Regions from separate parts of the Homo sapiens genome. Here all the other regions are linked to region 3. Evidence: fine-mapped expression QTL. A gene starts in region 3. Each other region holds a variant in brackets. All regions are shown on one strand. Distances are from middle to middle.

What was found.
Region 1: its variant is fine-mapped to the expression of FIG4 in whole blood (INTERVAL, PIP above 0.99).
Region 2: its variant is fine-mapped to the expression of FIG4 in whole blood (INTERVAL, PIP 0.96).
Region 4: its variant is fine-mapped to the expression of FIG4 in prefrontal cortex (BrainSeq, PIP 0.95).

Annotation. Positions count from the first base shown.
Region 1 is chr6:109,726,983-109,731,982 of GRCh38, reverse strand. FIG4 (FIG4 phosphoinositide 5-phosphatase) reads right to left here. Exons shown (of 23, transcript NM_014845.6): 4 at 4,718-4,874. Among named protein-coding and RNA genes, the nearest start is that of FIG4, 38 kb to the right of the region's middle. The variant A/C (reference allele first, on the strand shown) is at 2,045.
Region 2 is chr6:109,334,744-109,343,129 of GRCh38, reverse strand. It overlaps the pseudogene CCDC162P. Among named protein-coding and RNA genes, the nearest start is that of CD164, 44 kb to the left of the region's middle. The variant A/TGTGTGTGA (reference allele first, on the strand shown) is at 4,744.
Region 3 is chr6:109,685,960-109,693,873 of GRCh38, reverse strand. FIG4 (FIG4 phosphoinositide 5-phosphatase) reads right to left here and starts at 2,578. Exons shown (of 23, transcript NM_014845.6): 1 at 2,373-2,578. The coding sequence starts at 2,438. AK9 (adenylate kinase 9) reads left to right here and starts at 2,672. Exons shown (of 41, transcript NM_001145128.3): 1 at 2,672-2,727. RefSeq lists an enhancer at 2,625-3,094 and a silencer at 6,661-6,861.
Region 4 is chr6:109,783,243-109,788,242 of GRCh38, reverse strand. It overlaps FIG4 (FIG4 phosphoinositide 5-phosphatase), which reads right to left. Exons shown (of 23, transcript NM_014845.6): 17 at 3,215-3,273; 18 at 1,794-1,941. Among named protein-coding and RNA genes, the nearest start is that of FIG4, 94 kb to the right of the region's middle. The variant C/T (reference allele first, on the strand shown) is at 2,844.

The sequences.
Region 1 (5,000 bases), 40 kb before region 3:
AATACATAGCATTATATTGTATATTTAAAATATGTATGCAAATCATTACAAACTTTGTATACTGTCCTACTTTTTTCACTCATTTTTTGAAACCTAGTTACGTTGAAAGTTATAGATTTAATTTGTTCACTTTGTAATCAATGTTTGGTCTTCACTATATACAGTCATCCCTCGGTATCTGTGGGGGATTGGTTTCAGGTCCTCCCTCAGATAACAAAATCTGCAGATGCTCAAGTTCCTGATATAAAATGGCATAGTATTTGCACATAATGCACAATACACATCTTCCTGTACACTCTCAATTACCTCCAGATTACTTATAATACCTAATACAATGTAAATGCTACGTAATTCTATAGTTGTTATACTCTATTCTTTAGGGAATAATGACAAGAAAAACATCTGTACATGTTCAGTACAGACACAGTTTTTTTCAAGTATTTTCAATCTGTGGTTGGTTGAATTCACAGAGGTGGAACCCATGGATAAGGAAAGCCAACTACACATGACACACTTTATTTATCCATTGTCTGCTGATAGACCATTAGGTTCTTCCTAGTTCTCCACTATAAGATACAATGCTGCCAAGAGCATCCCATGCATGTTTTCCCATACACATGTGCAAGAGTTTCTCTAGGGCAGATACACGGAAACAAGAACCACTGTGCACTATAGATAACGTGCATTTTCAATTATGCTGGAATTGCCAAAGTGTTCTTCTAAGTGGTTAAAATATCACTCCAACTCATAGTGTATAACTCATAGTATACAACTCATTTCCCACATCTCTGCTATAATTTGATGACAGCAGATATTCTGATTATTCCCAAACTGACTAATGAGAATAAAATGGTACCTTTTTAATTTGCATTTCCCAAATTACTAGGTAAGGTTCAGAATCTCTACTGTGAGCTGCCTGTTCCTTTTAATCATTTCTCAGTTATGTTGTATTTTTTTCTCACTGATTTGTAGAAATTCTTCCCACATTCTAAATAATAATCATTGTTATATGTTACAAATATCTACTTTCAGACTGCTGCTTGTTTCCTAAAATTTGTCTAGATTATAAATACATTTTGAATATTTACAGTATCAAATATAGCATTGTTTGCCTTATGGTTTATGCATTTTGTATTTTGTTTGTAAAATCCTTTTCCATACCAGGATTATAAAAATATTTACCTTTATTTTCTTAAAATTATCTTTGTACTTCTGGAATTGCTTCCTGAATATTATCAGAGAATGGAATCAAATTTCATTTTTGTCCAACTGGAAAACCAACACTATTTATCCCATCTTTTCCCCCAATGACTTGTAATGCTCACTCTATCATATTCCAGTTTGCCACATAAAATGGATCTTTTTCTAGGCTTTCTCAACACTGTTCATTGACCCCCATCAATTCCTCCACCAATACTTAGCAGTCTTATTTACTATAGCTTACTACCTGATTATCTTAATTATTATAGGTCTTACCATCTTGTTGACTTTATCCCTTCTTGTTTTTCTTGTTTCAATTGTCTGGACCATGCTTAGACATTTGCTTTTCCATATGACTTTTAAAATCATGTCAAGTTCCATTCTCAAAACATCCTCTTGGAATCTGGATCAATGTTACATTAAATTTATAAACTGGCCAGGCCCTGTGGCTCATGTCTGTAATCCCAGGACTTTGGGAGGCCGAGGTGGGAGAACTGTTTGAGCCCAGGAGTTCAAAACCTGCCTGGTCAACACAGAAAGACCCTATTTCTGCCGAAAATACAAAAATTAGTCAGGCGTGGTGGCATGTGTCTGTAGTCCCAGCTACTGGGGAGGCTGAGGTGGGAGGACCACTTGAGCCCAGGAGTTCAAAGCTGCAGTGAGCCAAGATTGCACCACTGCACTCCAGCCTGGGTAACAGAGTGAGACCTTGTCTCAAGAAAAAAAAAAATTATAAATTAATTTTGGAGAAAACTAACATCTTCAAGATATCAAGACTCATCCATGAAAAAGGGACATCTCTCCAATTATGTAGAGATTTAAAAAATCTTTTAATAATGTTTGA[A/C]GTTTTTTCCATAAGGTTTTGGATAGCTTTTGTTATATTTATTGGCAGGTACCTTATACATTTTCTAGTTCGTTACTGCTAGTGTGTGGAAATATTACTGGTTCCTGTATGTCTTACATGTTGATCTTTTCTTTTTTCTTCTTTTAATCTTTTTTTTTTTTTTTTGAGGCAGGGTCTCACTCTGTCACCTAGGCTGGAGTACAGTGGCACAAACATGGCTCATTGCAGCCTCAACCTCCTGGGCTCAATCCTCCCACCTCAGCCTCCCAAAATGCTGGGATTACAGGCATGAGCCACCATGCCCAGCCATCTTTTCTTAGTCACCTTACTGAACTCTTTCATCAGTTCCGAGAATTTGTAGATATTCTCAAATTTTCCAAGTAGGAAATGATGCTGTTTGCATAATGACAGTAATTTTTCTTTTCAAGCTTTATGCCTTATTTTTCTAGTCTTGTGGCACTGCCTAGGGACTTTCAGTATGAGGCTGAATGTTAGTAGTGACGGCAGATACCTCTGTATTGTTCCTTACCTTGATTAAAAGTAATGCTTTTAAAGTTTCACTTCTAAGAACAATTTTGGATATAGGTTTTTAATAGGTATCATTTATCAGATTAAGAAAGTCTGCTTATATTCCTAGTTTGCTAAAACCTTTTATCACAAATGGGTATTGAATTTTGTCAAATATGTTTTCTGCAAACATTAAGAAGATAATTTTTCCAGCAATATTTTAATGTGGTGAACTGTTCTAGTAAATTTTCTAACATTGGTAACAATCATGCATTACAGAGATAAACATTATGTATGAAATGTTTAATAGTACTGTATTTTATTTCCAAATATTTTACCAAATAGTTTTGCTTAGATACACTATTGGATTATATAGTTTTATAAGTATTAAAAGTTTTTCCTAATTAGTAATATTACTTCAGTTTACCTATAAAAAACTATTAATATAATTGTATCTTATTCTGAATAAGTCCATTTACATGTTATTACTCATAATTTTATTCTTTAAAGATATCCAAATCACTGTACACAACAACATAATTTGTATTAGTATTCTTGGCTAAAGTATCATAAAGATGAGACTTATAAACAACATTAACTTCTTGAAATTTTCCTATCCCTGGATTCGCATGGTCTGGTCAATCTGATTCACTTTTAGTCAATACACTATATAGGCCTTCCTATCAGCTGTATCAGATATAACCTTTTTCAGTTAGTGCAAGACAAAGGTCTACTCTGATAAACTGTACTTATCCTCAAATGAAACAAATTATTTTCTAATAACCCCCTTCCAAATCATCATCAAAAGCAACATCACAAGGGCTCAGAAAACCACTGTCTAAGATGGTCTCAAGCAACAGGGCTGCATCACCTTTAAATTTTGGTTCATGTATTGGAACACTACAAAAGTACAGGATATAATTAAAATCTAAACTGTTACCTATCCTAAAAACTTATAAATATTTCTTTGTTCCATTTTAATCTTCATAATATTAAATCAATTCAACCTTTACAATTTTATCAATTTGTTAATAGCTTTTCCCACGTTTCCAAGGTTCCAATAATTCCTCCAAAACTTTTGAACATTTCAGATATACAGGAAAAATTGCAGGGAAAAAAAAGTACAATTAACACCACTATGCCCTTCTTCTGAATTCACTTTTAGCGCTCTCTCCTTAAACACATAAACAAATATTATCTCTCTTTAAATATACAAATACATTTTATTTTTCTAAACCACTTGACTGTAAGTAGCAGACATCATGACACTTCACTCCTAAGTATTTTAGCATGTATCTGTTATAAACAAGGACAATCTCCTCAGTGACCGCAAACCATTATTATACTCCAAATTTAAATACTGATTCAAGATCACTAGTATGTAGTCCACATACAAACTGTCCAAATAAAGCCCTTTAGATCTTTGTGTGAGGATGTGTGTACAAGTACATGCACTTTTAACCCAGAATCCGACCAAAATCTGCATTTAGTTGTCACGTCTGTTTAAAAATCTGGAACAGTCTTTTGTTTTTTGTCTTTGATGACTTTTACATTCTTTTAAGAATCTAGGCCAGTTATCTTGCAGGAAGTCCAGTGGTATGTATTTATCTGATTATTTCCCCATGCTTAGATTCAAGTTAAATATTTTTAGCAATATTTAACTACTAAGGTAAACTGTGTCCTTCCCACTGAGAGTCAAACAATGTCAGTTTCGTCTCATTATTGGTGATGTGAAGTTTGATTATTTGGATAAGAATGTCTGCTGTTTTTTTCATCATAAAAATACTTATTCCTCTGTAAATAACAAAGAGATCCATGGAGTTTAAAATGTTGGGACTATGTGATTATTCTATTCCTCAATAACAACCTCTCACCTAATAGTAGCCATTGTTGATTCTTGCCAATTGCTATAATGGAGTCTTTAACAGCTCTTAACAAAAATTCTAAAATTCTGAGCCAACATTTGATCTTTTTACATAACATTCATAATATCTAAACTGTATTTTATTTTCTACCTGATCTACGACATTAAAAAAAAGTACTTGAGCCTGGGAGGCCAAGGCTACAGCAAGCTATGACCATGCCATTATATTCCAGCCTTCCAGCCTGGGCAACAGGGCAAGACCTTGTCTCCAAAAAAAAAAAGGTAGTTACCACCATACATACCTAGCTTCATCAGGATGAGTAACCCGTACAGAATCATTGGGTATATAGATCATATTTGTATCTTCGACCTTATAGATTGCATGACCTCCAATATCCGCCATCTTCCTCCTTTTAGTTATTAACACAATATAATAGCCTTCTAAGAACCTGACAAAACCTATGCAACAAAAAATAAAGAGAAATATGCTTTATAAACTTAGTAATGGCTTTTAGATGCCTATTTAAAAGGCCAAAGACCTTTGATACATTTCTCACTTTATTATTTCTATGATTTATAGCCATA
Region 2 (8,386 bases), 350 kb after region 3:
AAGGAAATGCTTAGGCTTAGAATGCCTTTATTTTGGTGCCGGCCCCTATCGCGCAGCAGTAACTTCTGAAAGTGAGACACAGTATGGATCACTGGGAAAGGATACAGTCTCGCATGGGGGATAATACTACAAGGCTGGACCACACTCTACTTGCCAAGGATTGTTGTCAACTGGAAGCGTGCTTGCCCCATGAAAGCCTGTGTTCAAGGCAGAGGCCTAGATCCCAGGATCCCAGGACAGCCTCTAGCAAAAAGATCCTCAGAGAAATGGACACACACACACACACACACACACACGTATGTGATAATGATCTTGCTTAGGAGTAATATTTTCTCAGCCACATGAGTAAGAACAATAGCCTTTTGGCCACCGCCCTTGGTTTCTGGGCTGGAGAGGAGGGAGGAGAAGGGAAGCCCAAGTCCAGGCTATCTTTTCCTGGCTGTGCCATCTGTGTGGCTTCAGGCTGTGGTGCTCTGGTGACTGCTCCTGACAGCCACAGCACCAAGTGTGGTGGCCACGTTCAGCTTTGCAGAGTTAACTGCAAAGGGAATGAGGAAGAGGCTCTGAGGTTCAGATACCTGGCTGTCCTGCTGCTTCCACATCCTCGCGCTGTCAGCCTGTGCCCTGGCCAGGGCCTGCCTGAGAGCCAGGACCTGCTGACGAAATAAACCCACTTCTCGCTCTGCCATCAGCTTGATGCGCAAATACTCTTTTTTACTTTGAATAGATTCCTGTAAATATCCCAAACACAGTAAGATAGGAAATAGGTTTCCTTTCCAGATGTTTAGTTTCAAAAGCAGTATCTAAACCACTTTCCCATCCATTCTTCTTTCAAACTTCCGGTAGAAGGGAGCTCCTGCTAGTCACTGCTTCCATGATTTTATTTTATTTTATTATTTATTTATTTAGAGATGGAGTCTTTCTCTGTCAACCCAGCCTGGAGTACAGTGGTACAATCTTGGCTCACTGCAACCTCTACCTCCCAGGTTCAAGCAATTCTCCTGCCTCAGCCTCCTGAGTAGCTGAGACTACAGGTGCCCACCACCACACCCGGCTAATTTTTTTGTATTTTTAGTAGAGATTGGGCTTCATCATGTTGGCCAGGCTGCTCTCAAACTCCTGACCTCAGGTGATCTGCCCACCTTGGTCTCTCAAAGTGCTGGGATTACAGGCATGAGCCACCATGTCCAGCCTGCTTCCATGATTTTAATTCAGAAGAGGGTAACATATGAGAGTAAATACTTTCAGAAACAGGATGTGAAAGTTTCCAAATAGCTATCAATATGAGCTTTGGACTCAATTTACCTTAAAGCAGATTTCTCACTTATTATTTTGTGACTTCATTTTCCTCAGATACTCATGTATGAAACCCAAAGATATGCGGTATTTTGACAAAGCAGCCTCAAGGCCTTGGTGAAGCCTTTCCTCCATCTTTTCACTTCCTTCCCTTATGCTGAATTCTCTGATCTGTTTTTTGTTGCCCCCTTTGCTTCTGCCCCCTTTCTGTTTCTCCTGAAGTTCTCACATGGCCTGTTCCCAGGAAAAATCGCCAACCGTCGGGTCCTTCAGGATGGTTGGCCCTACCACCTGACACCAGTGCCACTCACAGCTACAGTGACACCATGGCAGCTGCAGCCATGGAGGCTTGGGATCAGCCATCCTGGGGACTGTCTGGGTCTCCCCCACCAGAGCTCACCTTCTCTGTCCTGCTCAGCTGGGCCTGGAAGCACGCCTGCTGCACAGCCAGCCTCCAGCGGCCCAGGCTCCTCACTTTGCACACCAGGTTGGCCAGGCTGCAGTTGTCCTGCTCCAAGGCCCACAGCTGTTCCTGCTAAGAAGGCTCATTTTCAGGAAAGGCTGCCCCCAACATTTTCATAGGAAGGGCACAAACCCTAACATCAGAAACATGCCTTCCAGAAGATGACACAATTGTGCAGTGCGTCCCTGTGCCCCCTTTAAAATGCCTGATGCAATGCTTTCTCAGGGAAATCAGGCTGGAATGCTAACAGGGTGAATGGTAGAGTCAGATGCTAGGATGAAACGCTGATATCCCATTGCTAAATGAAATCACATACTTTGGCTGGGTTTTCTTTCATTCCTTCATCGGGGCTGGCAGAGCACCATTTTTTCTTTAGGTCCTTCATATTGTCAATCCCTTCTGTTCTCACTTCACCGATGAGCTCACACACTTTCTGGATCAAATTAAGCTGATTATCATCCAGCTTCTCCTGCAAATTGCAGAATCAAGTCAAGGAAGTAAAATGGATTTGGGTAGTGTGAAGGGTAGTTGAAGAAAAGCCATTTTGCCTTCTACAACTTAACTTTTGTAAGTAATTTCACATTAAGATATCACCTCCTCAGACAATTATTCTGACATGTACTATAAGGAAGTCACACTTAGCAGCCCCCTGAGTGCTGTCTTTTATTCACAGGGCTTCATCTTCTGGACACCAGCACATCTTAGATTGTGCCTTCCTTGTCAACACCAAGGCAAGCTGAGCCAGGAGGATAGTGGAAGGTCACACAGGTAGAAAACCTGCTGACCAAACTGCCCCTGGTAAGAGTTACTTGGGAAGCTGAACCAAAGATTTTTGCTGCTATGTTGACTCACAGTAGAATGTGAGCAGACAAGACACTGTAGATGAGCCACTCCTGAGGAGCTCTGTTAAATATAGATAAAGTGGAGGAGGGAGTCAGGCTGGCTGCCTTCCTATTTAGGATCTAGCAGAAACCCCATTAGGAAATATTCCGTTCTGAATGGCTTCTGGCTAAATGGCTTGTGAGGAAACAGCCTGATCAATGGTAAGTACGACTGAAGACCCAGTGCTATGGACTGAATTGTGTCTTCCTCAGATTCATATGTTGAAACCCTAACCAGCAATGTGACAGTATCTAGAGATAGGATCTTTAGGAGGTAATTAAGATTAAAATGAGGATATAAGGGTGAGGCTCTATTGCAATAGACTGTGGCCTTATAGGAAGAGGGAGAGAGAGAGACCTTTCTTTTTCTCCCTCTCTCCCATGTGAGGACAGTGAGAAGGCAGCCACCTGCAAGCCAGGAAGCATGCCCTCAGCCAGAAGCAGACCACACTGGCACCCTGATCTCAGACTTCTGGCTTCCAGAACTGTGAGAAATATACTTTCTGTTGTTTAAGCTGTGCAGCCTATCATATTTTGTTATGGCAGCCTGAGCAGACTAAGACACCCAGTGTCTCTGGGGTGAGAGGTAGGGTAGGGGTGTCCTCTCACTTCTAAACCACTTCCCTGGAGAGGAAGGCAGGAGGAGGGTGCCCAGCTGGGAGCCACGGAGGGAAGCCTGGCTCTGGCCACACAACACAAGCTTTAGCAACTTCGTGGGACCCTGGAATATAACAGGGATTCCCTACTGTAGGAGGCTTGGTGGAACTACTTCAGCCTGGGAAACAGAGAGAATCTACTTTTTAACTGGGAATCTGGCAGAAGCTAAAAGGAACTTAAGACATTTCTCAACAATCTCACACCTGAAAGATGGCTTAGCAAATTCCAGCTGTCACTGTCTGCCCATCCTTCTCCTGCAGCACCAGACCTAATACATTTTGGGTTCGATCCCTTAATATGTGTAAGCATTTACACTGCAAGTAAGAGGAAATTCTCGCTGGAATGACCAGGCCAAGGTGAGTACTGGTGGAAGCTCCTGTTAACCTAACAACCCTCAGGGCCATTCTGCAATCCCTGGGGAGAGACTCAAGGACCCAAACGGGGCTGGCTTTGGGGTGTATCCAATAGCAGGGAAGGGGACAGGGTTGGGGGAAGCTGTGGACTTGCAGGTGGTAGGTTGCACTGAAATTCACACTGGTGAGTCAGCTGGACCAGTCTCCCTGATGGCCCATTTTAGGCTTGGGGCATCTATCTTATGGCTGTGCAAACATCACATGAAAGCGATTGGCTTCCACAGTGCTGCGGGTGCATGCGTACCCCATCACTTCTGCAATGGGTCTTTGCTGACAGGTCAGCAGTTTGCTGACATTGAATGTGAGAGTGAGGCTGGCAGGCATTTTGAGGGTTGGAAAAAAATGTGGAAGCTGATTCAAATTCTGAATGTGTCCAGGGAGTTCTCCAGAGGCACCTGCTGCTACCTACGTAAGGTCCGGCCTGGCCCAGGCACTGTAGTCTGGAAAGTCACACTAACAGATAAAATGGTGATAGAAACTGGGGAGGTGAGGGACTGTGGGGAGCAGAACACTCTGTCCTCCCAACAGCAATCAGACAGTGACAATAGCAACTGTCAATAGAGGGTAAAAGATAGACTTCTATATTATCCCCAAATTCAGTGTCTATCGTGGTTAATGACAACCCATTGCTGACTCTCTTTCTGCAGTGAAAGCTTAGAGCTAGAAAATTCTTGGGCCTAACAATCTCTTGTTACTACAAAGCCCATTATTCTGTCATCGATCCCTGGGTGTGCAGCCACCATGGGAATCCGTTACACTCGGCTACCCAATGGGTGGCCCAGATGTTCAACACGGGACACTTACTTTTATGTGTAAACAGGTCTCAAACAAAGCTCGGACTAATGCTTCATATTCTTCTTGGACTTCTTTTCTAATCTGCTTCTTGAGATTCAGATTCACTTCTTCCAAGTCTGTGAGTTGGGCTCTCAGAGTGGTGATTTCCATGATCATATCATGACTGAGCTCTGCAATCTAGAAGCATGAGAAAATGTGTGTGTGTGTGTGTGTGTGTGTGTGTGTGTGTGTGTGTGTG[A/TGTGTGTGA]GAAAAACAATTTAGGAGTTTCAAACTGCTACTACAAAATAGTTTCTTATAGATCAGTATTGAATTTCACTTCTATTTTAAACCTAATGAAGAGAGTGAACATTCTGCTAAATAAATGTGGGCAGAAGAATTTAAGGACAATTCAAAGGTCCCAGAACAGTGCCAGACACTGACTGGTGAATAAGTGACCCCAGAAAAGCCACTACATAGGCCCTTTTCAGTTAGAGAAAAATACTTCAACTGTCTTGGCCTCCATTTCCAAACTGGCCTCCCCTTGACACCTCAGCCCAAACATCCCTTTTCTTTTTTGGAATGCATTTTATTTTATTTATTTATTTAGTCTGAGACAGAGTTTTGCCCTTGTTGCCCAGGCTGGAGCGATCTTGGCTCACCGCAACCTCCACCTCCCGGGTTCAGGCAATGCTCCTGCCTCAGCCTCCCGAGTACCTGGGATTACAGGCATGCTCCACCACACTTGGCTAATTTTGTATTTTTAGTAGAGACGGGGTTTCTCCATGTTGGTCAGGTTGGTCTGGAACTTCCGACCTCAGGTGATCCACCCACCTCAGCCTCCCAAAGTGCTGGGATTACAGGCGTGAGCCACCGCGTCTGGCCTGGAATGCACCTTAACTGGCATCAAAAGAAAACAAGAAACAACAACAAAACTCCCCAAAGTAACAACAAAAACAGAACAAAACAAAACCAGTACAAAATAACAAAAGCGACCAAAAAACTCAAGAAAAAAAAATGCACCCTAAGGAGGGTTGCTCACCAAAAGTGAAAGCACACTCCTTGGTGTTCCTGCAGTGGACCTTCACTGACGGGACTTCTACAGGTGACACAAGCAAATGACTCTAAGGCATCCCATAGCTGGCTAGCCCTGAGAGTGTGGATGTGAGAAATGGAGAAGAGAACCTTTTAATAGGAAATGACCTACCTGGCCAGCACTGTCTTCAGGTGGACCCTGGCCTCTTTGTGTAGCATCTAATTCCTGGGCAGGAGAAAGCAGTACACAACCAAACTCTAACATTTAGTCTTCCAACCATGGCTCAGGTCAGTACAACACATTCCAAACACCTCCTATTTGTGTTAATGGAGCCCCATTTTGAGAACCTTAGGCTGTGCCTGGAGCTGAGACTGTGTGAGTTGCCCCACTGGACTTCAGGATGCCTAACACAGCCTCAAAAGACAACATTGACTTCCAGGTACCCACACTGATGCCAAGAACTGAGTAATGGGGATAGCCCAAAATAGGGGTGGCTCCAAGGCTCGTTGTTCATCATTTCAATGCTTCATTTGGTGTTTTGGCTAGTGGTTTAGACTTTTGAACTTTTCTAAGGTATAAACTAAAATCACACTAAATCTCTGATGCAATCTACCTTCACAATAGTGGGCAGCCCAGGGCAGGAGGACTGACTCTTCCATCCCACCAGCAGGCTCATATTTTAAGGAAGTCTCCCAGTGAGACTGACCCATGACATGCATCCTGAAGAGAGAGTTTACTCAAGGATCCTGGCTTCTTTCCCAGACCAGGAACAGCGCACGGTGCCTTGTGTTTGCTGAGGGTGGAAAGGACAGCTATGTACCTTCCCCTGCAGGGCCAGCCCCTTTGTTGCTCACCTTTCGTATTCTCCACTGGACACTTCCCAAGCACATAACCTAGTGTGCAACTGAGAATACCAGAGCCCAGGAGAATGATTGAGCCAATGAGTAGAGAGATTTGAGGGTACCATTCACCCTCAGTTCTGGCATAAGAACCACTGTATGTATCCCAACCCCCTCAGTTTTACTTTTCTCTTCTGAGTGCCTCCTGAGCCTCCCTGCCCATGCCCATTCCCCACTGCAGTTCTTCTCTCTCTGGGAACCTACTTGCTCTTTCTGGCTGAGCCTCTGCCTAGCATGATGCAACACATGCTCATAGCACATGGAGTAGGTCTCAAAGTTGCTGCATTCTCTTGCCATCACATCACAACCCAGGGAAAGGAGGCAGGCCTCAAGGTGATCTTTCCTGAAAGTGATCTGAAAGGAAAGAGGCATTCATTATTCACAGCCACTCCAGCAGTGCAGCCTCATCATGCCAGGGCCCCAGGCACTCTTTGCCTTGGCTCACAGACCCACTTTTGTTTCTCCTCTATATCCAACCATGGGCTCTAGCCTTGCAAGCCTCTCTTTCAAGTCAGCTTTGAACATTTGTAAGGACACGAGGACAATGGAAGCCCACATAGCGCATGTCAAAACATTGAAAGGTTATAAATCAAACTAACAAAATATCAGAATGAAATGTTTAATTCTCCTACCTTGAAAAACAGACCTGAAAAATGACCTGGAAAGCCAGATTTGAATTTATTATTCCTGGACTACTCTGAGTTTTTTTGTTTTTTTTGGTTTTTTTAGACGGGGTCTCACTCTGTCGCCCAGGCTGGAGTGCAGTGGTGTGATCTCAGCTCACTGCAGCCTTCACCTCCCAAGTTCAAGCAATTCTTCCACCTCAGCCACCCAAATAGCTGGGATTACAAGGGTGCACCACCACACCCGGCTAATTTTTGTATTTTTAGTAGAGATGGGGTTTCACCATGTTGGCCGGGCTGGTCTCAAACTTCTGATCTCAGGTGATCCAGCTGCCTCGGCCTCCCAAAGTGCTGGGATTACAGGTGTGAGAGTCACCCGGCCGACTACTCTCAGTTCTATGCTGTAGTGTGGTGACCTGGGGAAGGCTGGTCCCCAACCTGTAGTTTACAGTGTGACCCCCTTCTCTTCCCAGCTCTGGCCTCATGTCATGCTGTGAGGTCTTCACATGCCTGTGAGTGGACATCCTAGCCTGCATGTCCAAACTCCATCCACACGCCCAGTCGCCTCTTGGCCACTTCCAGGCCAGGGGTGTGCACACTAGTGATGAGGTCCACTCTCACTCGGGGGAAGGTGATCCAGGGAGGAGGCCCATTCAGGCCAGGGACTCAGGGAATTCCAGGTCCCAGGTACTTGGAGCATGGTCTAAAATGAAGGCCAGGGCTCTGAGTGGATATGTCCCTGTGGCCCAGGGGATTTCTTACCTTGTGGGGAAGGTCATGGCTGGAGAAAGGCCAGAGAGGGGCCCTCTGGTATATGGGGTATCTGGCAGGGGCTTCTCTTGCTCTGGTCTAAGGGCCACACAGCTCATTCTCTAGGCAATTCCACTCATTCCCTTTCTCCAGGAGATTGAGCATACTTTTTGAATAGGTGGCAATTAAGGAACAGCCCAACCTTCCAAGGCAGGCTTAGATTTAGGTTCTGGAGAGAAATGGGAGCCAATATTTGGAAGGTAGGACAGACCTACCTAACTAGGACCTGCATATCTATGCGAGTGTGTTTGTCCCTCTGTGCATCAATGAGTGTGTGTGTGTGTGTGTGTGTGTGTGTATCTATCTGCAGGGATGGGGGGTGAGAAAGTTTATGGGGCCAAGTCTAAGACCCAGCCTACACTGTAACGTGAGTTTTATCTGTGACACTTCTGGGGTCAGGCCGGCTCCTGCTCCCTGGCCATCTACCATTGAAGCCAGCCTGTCCTTTGAGCCTAGGGGATCCTCCTGGCTCTGATTTGCTTGTCCTGGAAGGCCCAGGGCACTGTCCTATCATTGCAACCCCAGTGCTCCACTGACCTCCAGTG
Region 3 (7,914 bases):
AAAAAAAAATTATTTAACAAAACCGAGACTCAGTGATTCAATGCAGCAGACATTTTCAAGGGTGGTTGCCCAGCCCCAACCATTTGCTGAAACAAAGAGGATCCTGATTCCACAGCTAAATCATTCCTGCCAGACCCCCCCTGGCCATGAATGATTTGTCCACTCAGGGGATGATAACCAATCATAGTTGAGTCGATCAGATTTTTTCTCCCAGCACCTACACTGTTTTTGGCAGTACTCTGAGAGGGTTCTCAAACCTGTTATCTCTTTCCTGCTTTTCCAGAAGCTGGATACCATGCAATGGCTCCCCTAGCATCCCTCTGATAAATTTACCTTTTGTCTCTAAGCTGGCCAGAGTTAGTTTCCATTACTTAGGCAGTTGAGAGGGGTCACAGCTGAGTTCTGGAACACACCTCTATCTCTTTGTGTTAGAGCTCCTTAATCCACATCTATTGAGAGACTACTGTTTGCAAGGCATGACCAGATATGTGCTGTGAGGATCAGCAAGGTTTTGACAGGAAAAGAGGGGGTGTGGCATTAAGAGAATAGAGAACAGCAGAAAAACACAGGGCAGATATAGGGAACTGAAAGCAATACAGTTTTACTGCAGAATAAGGCATATGAAGGCACATGGTTGATCCTCAATAAATGTTTCATTAATTGATATTAAATTAGATGTAAAACTAGATAGACAAGTTGAGGACAAATAATACATGGCTTTGAATGCCAACTAAGGGATTCAGAGTTTACTTGCTTCAGAATTGGGACCACTGAAGATTTCTGAGCAGAAGAGCCCTATAATATGAATTGTGCTTTCTGAACACTAATATCTCACGCAGTCCTCATGAGTGATCAGCTTTTTAATGGGCTGAAATTTGTGTTTTATTTACGGCCAGATGCGGTGGCTCATGCCTGTAATCCCAACACTTTGGGAGGCTGAAGCCAGGAGTTTTAGACCAGCCTGGCCAACATGGAGAATCCCTGTCTTTTATTAAAAACACAAGAATTAGCCGGTCATGGTGTCACATTCCTGTAATCCTAGCTACTTGGGAGGCTGGGGTGCGAGAACTTCTTGAACCTGGGAAGCAGAGGTTGCAGTGAGTGAGCCGAGATAGCACCACTGCACTCCGGCCTGGGTGACAGAGCAAGACTCTGTCTCAAAGGGAAAAAAAAAAAAGTTATTTATGTTTCTAATGAGGGAAATTTAGCAGCATATTTTACAGAAAATAGGTTTCATTTCAATGACAAATGATACTTCTTTATGGGTCTCATTAGAGAACTGAAAATACTTGCAAATACAGTATATTTGATAATGTCATTTTCTGCTCTAGATCTAATCAAAGTTGTCAGCAAAATTAATTTAAGGTCCACAATTCTCTACTCATGTTAACCTGAGGGAGAGGTTATTGTGCTATTAGGACTACGTTATAACTGAGAAACTGTTAAATGCCTTCTCATACTCCTCTAATGGAGACAACCCAAGTTTCAGAGAAACAGTTTATAAAGCACTCTATAACATAGTGAAGAGCATTATGAAAATATCTGGCATATGCAATCTTGTTAGCATGAAATGGGTAATATTAAACACAGTCCCTAATATCACTGTGGCACCCCAATTTAGAAGAGCTATACTGTACCAACTTTGCTTTCCACCCACAGAAAGGACCAAGTATGAAGTTATATAAACACCATTCTCCCTTAATTGAGGAACTGGTAATCGAAATACAAACTGATCTGCTTATTCACTATTTACATGGCCATTCAAAGTAATAAAATTTTAAAAGTAAATGTTATGTTGAAAAAAGTCAAGTGAAAAGCAAGATGTTATCCAAACAAATTATCTGTCTTTAAACAAAGTAAGTTTTCCTTTCCTTTCAAATAAGAAAAAAAGAGAACCAAAAAGTTCACCAATAGAAGTGTAATTCACATGAATCGCAGTGATGGTATACCATGGAATAGGAAAAAATAAGTTACAAGTCATAGTTCAAATTTTTTTCATACCCCTGCCTGTACTGTAACTTGTGAACTCTAGAACTTTAACAGACTTTCTGAAAGCTGAAAAGAATCCAGTAACTCGTACAGAGAACCTCATGAACAGTTCCTGAGGTACCACAAGCACCTGTTTCCAGCGTGTTCCAGCCATGGCTTGTAAGTGGACCTGCAAATGCTGCAATGTCCAGGGTACCAAAATAGGGGAAAGGCGCCCAGGCACAGCTCAAGGGAGCTAGCTTACCCCAAGGCTGTGTTTGACAGGGATTTGGGAACTGGAGAGGAAGGAGGAGGAGGCAGAGTACAGCCTCTGTCCTACGGCCCCACACCCACCGGCAGACATCCATCCTCCCGCCTGCGCCCCGCCGCGAGGGGGTACTCACAGCTCTAGTCTCATACAGAACCAGCTTCTGGACCGAGCTGATGATGGGGGCGGCGGCCGTGGGCATGGCGGCGGCAAATGGGGGCCCCACAACAGGGCACGAGCCTCCGGACCGCCCCAGGAGACTCGGCGAGAAAACCCCTCAGGCCCTGGACATCAAGTCCAGCCAGGAACAACACCCATTAGGCACTAAACCTATAGATGATCAGGTGTTTCCGGATCCCTGCGCCCCGCCTCCAGGCAAGCCCCGCCCCTCACGTCGGGAGCGGGGCTGGAGGACGTATCATAGAGAGGTCGGGTAGAGGCTCCCGGGACCTGCGTGCTGCCGAGAGAGGAAGCGAAGGGCACCATCTTTGGTAAGGATTGGAGGAAAACATGGGCGGAGAAAAAGTCGACGGATTAATTGAGTCTATTTATCTCCTCCCTCTCTTTGGAAAAAAGCGGAAGGTTTGGGATTGGGTAGCTTCTTTTGAAAAGGGTTCTCCGAGTTGCAGGATAGATCCTTGTGTTTTCCCTGCCTGCTGCGGCCCATTTTCCTGGAAGCCGGCCCTCTGACGGTCCTTCACTGAGTGTCAGTTTTCCCCTCACCTCTAATCCATGTTGTACCTACGCTGTGTGGCCCAAGAAATTGTTTTAAAATCACCTAAAGCTGGAAAGTGTGGCTTTGCCACACGTTTGTGCGTGAGGCTAGCCACTTGAAGTTGTCGACAGAGACTAGCGCAGTGTGGCGGAGCCGCGCTTGAAATGAGGTTTCTTCATTTCATGTGTGCGACATAAATGGGCATGCGCGTACCCTCTCTTCCATAGTTGTGAAAATGAGTGTATTATAATTATAAATGCCAAATTAGGTACAAAAGTGACTATTTCGAATTGGAAAAGAAATGACAAAGAACTACAGCCCCGCCTCTCGAGGCCCCGCCCCACCAAGCAGCAGGTGCGTGGCGGCCAGAGGTCTCCCCGGCAACCGCCCGACAGCCCCGCGGAGTCCCTGGAGGCAGTTGCTTCCCTGAGGAGGGTCCGGCTGCGGCCAGGTAAGGAGCCTTCCGGCGGCCCGCTGGGTCGTGGTCCGCCCTGGAGGCATCTTGGTATCTGTTGCACGGAACCCCGCCTCCTGCGGGGACCCCCAGACCAGCTTCTTTTCTTGCAAAACGGTCTCTTTGTAAATCCACTTTTTAAAACCACGTCTCCTTTCAACGACTGAAGTATTTATTCCACAAATATTTACTGAACACCTACTGCAAGAGTATAAGATGTAGGGGAGAGGCAGCTATCCTATCTTAGGCGGCAATTCTAGGTTTCCCAGGAAACCTCTAAACCTCAGAAACCTCTGCTAGAGGGCTTCTCAACTGCTAAGTGTAAGGAAACTTTAAAAAAAAATTATAGAATTATAGCATACCCAGATAACATTCATGTAATACCAAAGATCATATTGTAAATTAAAATTTGAGAAATTACAAAAATTGTAAAGAAATACTTAAGTCTATGTTATTTTGCGCTTCTTTCCCCCTGTAGTTTGGTACTCCTTTTATTAAGAACTAGAAGGATGGCCGTGTCCGTTCTGGCATTTTGGACTTGGATCTTTTAACTGGGAAAAATAGTTAGCTGTGTTCTGTTTCATAATGAAACCAACTCTTCTGAATATTAGTTAAATGTTTGCACAGTGTTTTTATCTAGGATAGCAACTCTTAAAATACCTGAAGGATTCTAGTTTTCAATTATTATAGTTTAGCACTTCCATTTTAACTTTATCTTAGTTTATTTCACCCGGAATCAGATCCTAAGACAAAACTTTGAAGGCAGGTTGTTTATATGAGACGTAATCCCAGGAAACAGCAGCAGGGAGGGGAAGAAAACTAATAAAGGAAATATTACCAGAGAAATTTCTCTGTGGGCTGAATTCACTAGGGAATACTGGGAGGCATGTCTCAGTTATCCCCTCTTGAGGGGCAAGGAAGCTGGAGTATTTATTCGCCAACTTCCATCAGTTATTGGATGAAGCCTGATAGGGCAGAACATTGATGCCCTAGAACTTCCAGTCTACCCTGTGTTCAGGGAGAGTAGGTTCTGGCAGCCAGAGAAAGCCCTTAGGCAAAAAGTCGCACATGCTAACATTTTGGAAGTTGGGCTGGTCGTGCATAGAAAAGGTGTATGTCAAGTGGATATGGGGGAGGCACTAATAGCAGCTGCTACATTCCACCCTTTGCAGCACTCGTATCCATTCTTCCTCCACATCAAGTTCACACCATGCCACCCTAATTCTTTAAGGTAGTGGCTAGTCTCAATTTTTAAAAGAAAAGGACTTACAAAAAAAAAGATTAATGGGACAAGCTGCAGAATCCACTACTGCAATTAATCTGAGGTCTCTAATTGATCATCTCCTTCCTCTAACATCATTCTAGATTTTCCTTACTCTTGGCCAACACTTCTGCTGGTCTGTGTTTGCCCAGTAGGATAACAAGCTTTCATCCCTGAGGAGCATAAGCCCTTGGTTACTGTGTCATTGTAAGGTTTTGGTTGCTGCAATTACCCATTCACTGGACATGAAAGCATCAAGAGCTGTCTCAGAGAATCCCCTGAGTTCAAGAAATGCATCCCCTATCCCACTTATCTAGCAGTTTATGGCCATACCACCCTGAGCACCCCCAATCTCATCCAATCACATAGCAGCAACCCTATCTCCATCTGCCAGTGCAATAACTCCTTATGAGCTTTTGGAGTCAAAAATGACCAGGTGGCAGCAGTAGTTTTAAGATTTAATGAAACCTTTACTGGGTCCCCTGATAGAACCATCTCTCCCCTCCACCAGACCCAGGACCTCTTGTCCAGAAGTGAGGTGCAAATTTCCCAAGTCAATCACTGAGAGTATTAGTGAGAGGGGTCACTCCTACTTCCAGCCCTTGATTCAAAGCATGTTCCTCATCTTGAAGTACATTGTCTCAATCCCACACAATCCCAAGCTAGCGCCTTAGCTGTGCCTTTAAGAGACCATTCCAACATTCTGTCAAACCAGTAGCTTCTAGGTAAAGTGGTATTGTAAAAAGGGTCCTCTGATCCAAGGCAATGGTATATGAGATCTCATGAAGATAAATGAGACATACTCTAAACCTTTAGGTAGTGGTGCTGGCCAAGGCACTGCAGGTAGGAAAAACAAGCCCATATTAGGAGCATTTGTCACTTGCCCCTTTAAAGGTGAAGGGGTCCTGTGTAATCAATTTGTCACTGAATGAATGTTTTGTCTCCTAAAGGGGTTGTACCATATTGAGGGCTCAATATGAACAGGTCTCAATTTGTAATCAATTTGTCACTGAATGAATGTTTTGTCTCCTAAAGGGGTTGTACCGTATTGAGGGCTTAATATGAACAGGTCTCTGCCATGAACAGGTAGAACATTCAGCAGCAGTAGTGTAGCTAAACCAGCCTGGTGAAAGGAGGCCTTGATATGAGCCCATGCCTATCCTTCATCACCTTCATCCCTGCCACCATGCCTACTTCATTTACAAACCCATTATGCAAGCATTGAGGTGACCAGAAGCAAAGATTGGCTCATGTCTACTGGATAAATTATCCTGTCCACCTGGTTTTTTCAGTGCCTCTTCTGAGGTGGATGCTTTCTGAGATACAAATATCTATGTATTTTACATCCACTTACATTAGTTTTCTATGCTGCATAGCAAATTACTGCAAATTTAGCAGCTTAAAACAACACACATTTGTGATCGCACGGTTTCCATGGCCAGGAGCCCTGGCATCACTCACCTGGGTCCTCTGCTCAGGGTTTTACAAGGCTGCAATCTGGTGTTGGCTGAGATGTGCTTCCATCTGGAGACTTGACTAGGGAAGAATCCACTCCCAAGCTGATTCACATTGTTGGCAAGCATCATCGTTTTGTGGTTGTAGGACTGAGGTCACTGTTTTCTTACCAGCTGTTGGCAGGGGCTGCACTCACATGCCACCCACTCTTCCTCATCACGTGGTCCTCTCACAACATGGCAGCTTACTTCTTCCAAGCCAACAGAAAGTCTCCCTCCAGTCCCCTAAAATGGAGTCTTATACCATGTAGCATATTCATGAGACAGACATTCTGTCACCTTTGCTCTATTTAGAAGCAAGTTACAGACCCCACTCCCACTCAAAGGAAGAGGATTATGCAAGGGTGTGACTCACTGGAGGTCAGATTAGGGTGTGTTTGCTACACCACCCTCATAGGCCCAATCACATGCTTCTTCCCCAGAACTCTTTTTCTCTTACCTTCTGATCTTGTACCTTCTAGGCCCTTGATGAAACCAATCCGCATTGTCCTCCAAATTGAGGGCCTAGGAATACTGCTTAAAGCTCTGCCTGCCAGGAAGATTTCCCCTAATCACCATTTTTCAGGGCCACTTGTGAGAGGAACTCATGTCTGGAAGCATTACATTTACAGCTTTTACCAGTATATTGTGATTCATCCATGAATTTTGTTTTCATTTTCTGTCAGCTCTTCTTAGGGAATTCCACATGAGGTGTGAGCTGAAAGAGACATTGGTGCATGAGACAGGTGACATGGGCATCTGGGCTGCTTATTTTTGAAATTTATTTGTGCCCTGAAGACCTGTTTGAGCCTGATCCCATTGTTCCATTTTTATCATTTAATGGGTTGCTGCAGTGCCTGCCTGACTTTAGGACTTGACTTGTCTGACATAACCAGCTCATAGTGGATACTTCCAGTTGCATAGTCACTTGATATCCCATGACCAGGCATTCATTCTCTACCAGAGCCCAAGAGCATGCCAAGAGCTGTTTTTTGAATGGGGAATTATTCTCTGCTGCAGACAGCAAGGATCTACAGAGAGAGGCTCCTGTTGTGGCTTTCCTAAGACTCCAGAAGGTATCCTTACATACCACAGCATTGTGGGACCTTTAGTATTGTGGGATCTAGCCAGATGTATGGCCCAGGAAGCAAAGCCTCTGGTACTACAACCTAAAACTACAGAGCTCTTTCTTGCTGTGTGCCCCACTCAAAAATGACAGCTTTCCATGTCACCCACTAAATGGGTCAAAACAGTATTCTTTAGTGCGCTTTATGCTCTCTTTGAAAACTAAAGAGGCCTGCAAAATACTGTGCCTCTTTTTTAGAGGTTGAAGGTACAAGGTACAGTAACTCATCCTTTACCTTGGACAGAATGTCCCAGACCACTGGCCTTTTAAAACTTTACCAAAGTAATAAGACCTTCAAACTTTGTAGGTTTATCTCTCACTTTATACTTACTGCTCATGTGTCTTTATAAGGGGATCCGGGACACTTGCAACTTCCTGCTCACTAGGTCTGATATTGTCAATATTGTGGATCAAGACCCCTTTATACTATATTGTCTCAAACAGCAGGAGAGTCCTTGGGTAAGACTGGATGTTCACTGTCACTGCTCTAAGTGAATACAAATTGCTTCCGATCCTCTTTCTTGATAGGGATTGAAAAGGATGCACACATTGCCAGATCATCAGCTGCGTAAAAAATACAAGAGACTGTGTCTATCTAGTAAAGATCCCATCTGCACAGCAGTTGCAAC
Region 4 (5,000 bases), 96 kb before region 3:
TTATGTTAATAAATCAACAATATACAGATGCTCCTCAACTTAGAATGGGGGTTACATCCTGACAAACCCATAGTAACTTGAATATGTATTTAGTACACCTAACCTACTGTACATCATAGCTTTGTGTAGCCTACCTTAAAAGTGCTCAGAACATTTACATTAGCTTATGGTTGTGCAAAGTCATCTAACACAAAGCCTGTTTTATAGTAAAGTTATTATAAAGAATTTTGAATCAAAATTCAAAATTCGAAGAACAGTTTCTAGCTAATGCATGTAACTTTTGCACCATTGTAAAGCTGAAAAATCGTAAGTTGAATCATTATAAGGCAGGGACTGATTGTATATTAACTACGTTTCTGTCTTTAAACAAAAACATACACAAAACTAGGTTATGTATTGATTGGTTGACAAATATGATGTGACCAGAGGCTCTCAGGAACCTAACCCTGTATTTCCCTTAGAAGCAATGGTCCAGTATTTACTAATTCAGTGTTTGCAATGACTTTATAGAACACAGCTACCACAAACACAATTAACTACAGTAAGTCCTCACTTAATGTCATTGATAGGTTCTTGGAAACTATGACTTCCAGTGAAACAATGTACAGCAGGTCCTTAAATAATGTTGTTTTTTCCGACATCATTTCATTTAAAGTCAGTTTCCAAGAAGCTGTCAAAGATGTGAAGTGAGGGTTTATATGTATATGAACACATATACCTAATGTCATTTATCTTTTGCTGAGTTAACAACTTCTAGAAATGACAAAGGTCTCATAGTTAAAACTGCTAAACCTTAACAAGTTTACTTGAAAAATCAAGCAAGTAAGAATTTCGAACTGTTCCTAACTATCTGAAACTGAAGCAAAATGTAGAGTGATTTCTAGGAAACAAAACCACAGAATATGTTTCTATGTACCACACAAAGTATAAGCATATAAATACCACATCTGAAGAAAATGTGAAATATAAAAAATTAAATTTTAGTATAAAATATAACAAGTAATTTTCTTTGCTCGATTTTCTTATTCTGGTCCCAGCGTTTTTCCTAAAGGGTCCCATCAAATTCTAAAAGAGATACAGAGAATGAAATGTGTCTGAAGGTGAGAGACTAGGATGGAGAGAGAATGGAAACCATGCCACATAAGTTATGGAAGAACAAATGAAGGATATTTACCCTGAAAAAATGAATACTGCTTCCTCAAATATCTTGAGGCAAAAGAGAAACTAGATTTGTCCTATGACTAATAATAATAGTAATAATAATAGCTACCATTTATCAATCACCTGCCTGTACCAGGCACTACAAAGGCACTTGCGGGGCGTGTGTGTGTGGGGGAGAGAGAAAGAAGAGAGACAGAGAAAGACAGATTAAGAAAATAATGCTCAGGTAAGTTGGATAATTTTCCCAAGGTCACACAGGAAGTGGCTGAACTAAGATTCACATCCTAGCCTTTCTAGTACCAAAGATGATGCTTTTCCCACTAATTTATGTCAACTCTCAATTTCTATGTTCAGTGAAAAAACTGAGTTTATTCCAAATGGCAAACTAGGACTAATAGGAGGCAGATTTCAACCTATCAAAGGGGAGAAATCAACTCCAACTGTCAATAGAACAATAGAAGGGGCTGCCTCTTGAAGTAGTGGGCTCCCCATCACAGGAGGTATTCAAAGGTGGACTACCCACCTGACAGAAGGCCTACAGAATGGATTTCTGGTAAAGACAGACATATATATACAAACTAGGAAAACTACAGTTCTCAAATACTTATGGTATCAGAATACACACAACATACCGTGCTGAGCTTGTCATAGCCAAGCAAAAGGTATCATCAAAGCTGCTCAACTCATATGGCCGAAAGAACTCATTGTGGATATCAATCTCTTCTTCATATTTGTGGAATTTCTTCACTATCAACTTCTTTAAGTTCACAGCACAGATAACTAAGAGAGATACTGCATGTTACTCTAAAAGTCTGAGATTATAGCAAGCAAACATTTCCATAATATTAACTGTGTTCACAGACAGCACTGTGATAAGCTCTGTGGGGGATACAGCCCTGACCGAGGGTAAGCTCCTGCCTCCAACACTTACACAGTTAGAAAGGAGATGAGATAGATGCATAGAAAATACAATGCAAAGCTGAGTTCAACAAGCTCTAAGGAGCCAGGAGGGCCTCAGGAAGTCCAATGGGAGCAGGCAGTTATTTAGAGGAGGTTCTTTAAATTCCTTTTTGCTCTTAAATAAATGCCCTTTGTGTTTTAGCTAAAAATTGTACAGCTTTTTCCCTAAGTTTCCCTTTATATTTCAAATTCTGTTAATAGCCACTGTTAGTTAAAACCCTTTCCTTTCTCCCAGAACAACTAAACCTTTTCAGCAATATGAGTAATGATTTTGCCCAGAATTTCAAGTTACAAATACCTTCCAAAATGAATTTATAACTTAATAAGAACCAAAAATACTTTGTAATCTTACTTTATGGCCTTCCCCACCCAAAGTTGGGATGCTGAAGCATGACTAGATGGAGTCCTCAATTGGAGCATTCCAGATTCGCAGGAGATCTTGCTAGGAACCCTTTACCAAATGGAAAATGAGCTTGCTCAAGGTCAGGGGAGTTAGTAACAAAGCCAGAACTAAGCTTTATTTAAAATTTGGCAATTATTTAAATTTGGAAACATCATTCTAATGTATTATACACTTGAAGGTTTTCCTTTAATATAGAATGTTTCCTGCCCCTCTGACAAATTAATGAAATTTAATTTAAATGTGACTAAAATGTACTTTTATACATGCATCTGTACCTTTTTTCACTGCTTATTAGCACAGGAAAAAAGTTTTAAGTTCT[C/T]CTTGTGAATAGGTCCTTACTTCCTCCGCATTCTCCCAAAATATGTAGAAATATAAACTGTATTAGTTTAAAGTGATGAGCCGATATATCATATTTTACTGACTAAATATTTGACAGACACATAATAATTGTAAGACACAATACAAGGTATTGGCCTACATAGATAAAAAGAAGTATAATATAATTCCTGCCCTTTAAAAAGCTAAGAGATGTTATAATATCCTATCTATTAAAGCAGCAACATAATACTGAACAGCCATTCATTTGTTTCTAATAAAATACTATGTGCAAAGGATTTAATGCTTCAAGTTCATTAAGGTATAATGCCAAAATATGTTAGTGTAAAAACTAAAACACAAACAGTTACCTACCTTCATCATAGGGCAATGGTAAATGCTTTATCACCTCTGGTGTCCACCAGTAAGTATAACTATAAAATAAAAATTAAAAAAAAAGATGAACCAAATGTAAATGTTGGTTTTCTAAAATTTACTGGATAAAATAATTTATATGGTCTATAGTAACATGTTCCTACTTCAAAGTTAATATTTTTCTTTTTAAAACATGTTTGCAAAGCTTTTGACACAGTAGGTCTTCAACATGGTAATTCCCTTCCCAACTGCTTTCTTCCTTCAACTATGTTGCAGATCTACAAAAATGCCATGAATACACCTGAGAGTCAAGATGCTCTGATATTATTTACTTTTAGCTAAAAAGGATTAGAAGGTAATAAGCTGACTCTATGAACTGCTGTTAACTTCTCCCAGGGACTGTGCCTACAGTGACTTACTCTGCCACCAGGTGAGTAGTGGGACCTTGACCCAAGTCCTACAACCAGGATTCCCTTGCGTGTAGTTATCTGATAGTTAGAATCTACTCTGCTGTATAGTACACACCTGTGTGTATAGTTAAAACAGTTAAGCAAAATCATTAAGGAACGAATTAGACAGTCCTAACGAACAAGTTCCCTTAGAAAGCAGTATAGACCGTTATTCTTTAACTGTAAATATGTGCTACTTGATTACAGAAGCTAGTCAGAGTAAGAGTAAAGAATGTCACCTGTCTGGATTTCTGCTAGAAGGCTCGTCTGCTATAAGCAAAGAATCTGAAAGAATCCTAAGTGGCCTTCTCTCTGAACACCTAATTTAATTCTCAATCAAATTCTAATGAAATGAATATTTAGAGGAAAAGGATATATGTCAAAGTTCATGAGAGCTAGGAAGGAGAAGAATTTTTTAAAAATCAGATTTCTAAAGATTAAAAAAAGAGCCTATAGCCAAAAATTGCTAAAAAGAGATTTTAATATAAATGAAAGGCTTTCTAAAAATATAAAGCTGAAATTACAATCTTGAATAATCCTGATTATGAAGCAACAGGAAAGTATCCAAATGAAACTGGCAACACAGGGAACTCTCCTAGGGATGGCAAGCAGAATACACAACCACTAATGATGAAAAAAGGAATATGAAGCCTAATGAATTGTGTGGGGCAAATCACTGTTCTAACAGGAAAGGTTCCTAAAGTTTTGTTTTAGACTGAAGTTATGCTTTACAGCAGTGCTATTCAAAATTCAATGTGCATGTAAATCACTTTGGGATCTTGTTAAAAGGCAGATGATTCAGTAGGTGGGGCCTGAGATTCTGCCTCTATGACAAACTCCTGAGCAAAACCAAAGGGGCAGATCCTCCAACCCCTTTTCAATAACAAGGCTTTGAATATGAGAAGAACAGAGCAAGGATAAGGCTGCTGCTTGTGAAGAATTCATTCAGTTATTCCACATTTATTAAGCACCTGCTATGTGTCAGACACTGCTCTATGTGTTGAAAGTGCCAAGCTGAAAGCAATGACAGAGAAAGTAGAGCTACTTAATTCCAGTACTGTTTCTATCCTCCCTAGCCATAACAAGTTTCGCACCTGAAAGAAAAAACACAAGAGGGAACTGTGTACAACCCAGAAGACAGAAGGAGGCGCTAGAGCGTCTCTACAAGAGGCTAGTGTCCCGGTGTAGCTGAGATCTATAATCTTTAAGGAACAGTGAAACATGGAGCTGATACTGGAAATGGGCCAATGCAGTCTTTAATTTTTACATTTAGCAGAATTTATTTATTTATTTACTTTTTTCAACTTTCATTAAGTTCAGGGGTACATGTGCGGAAC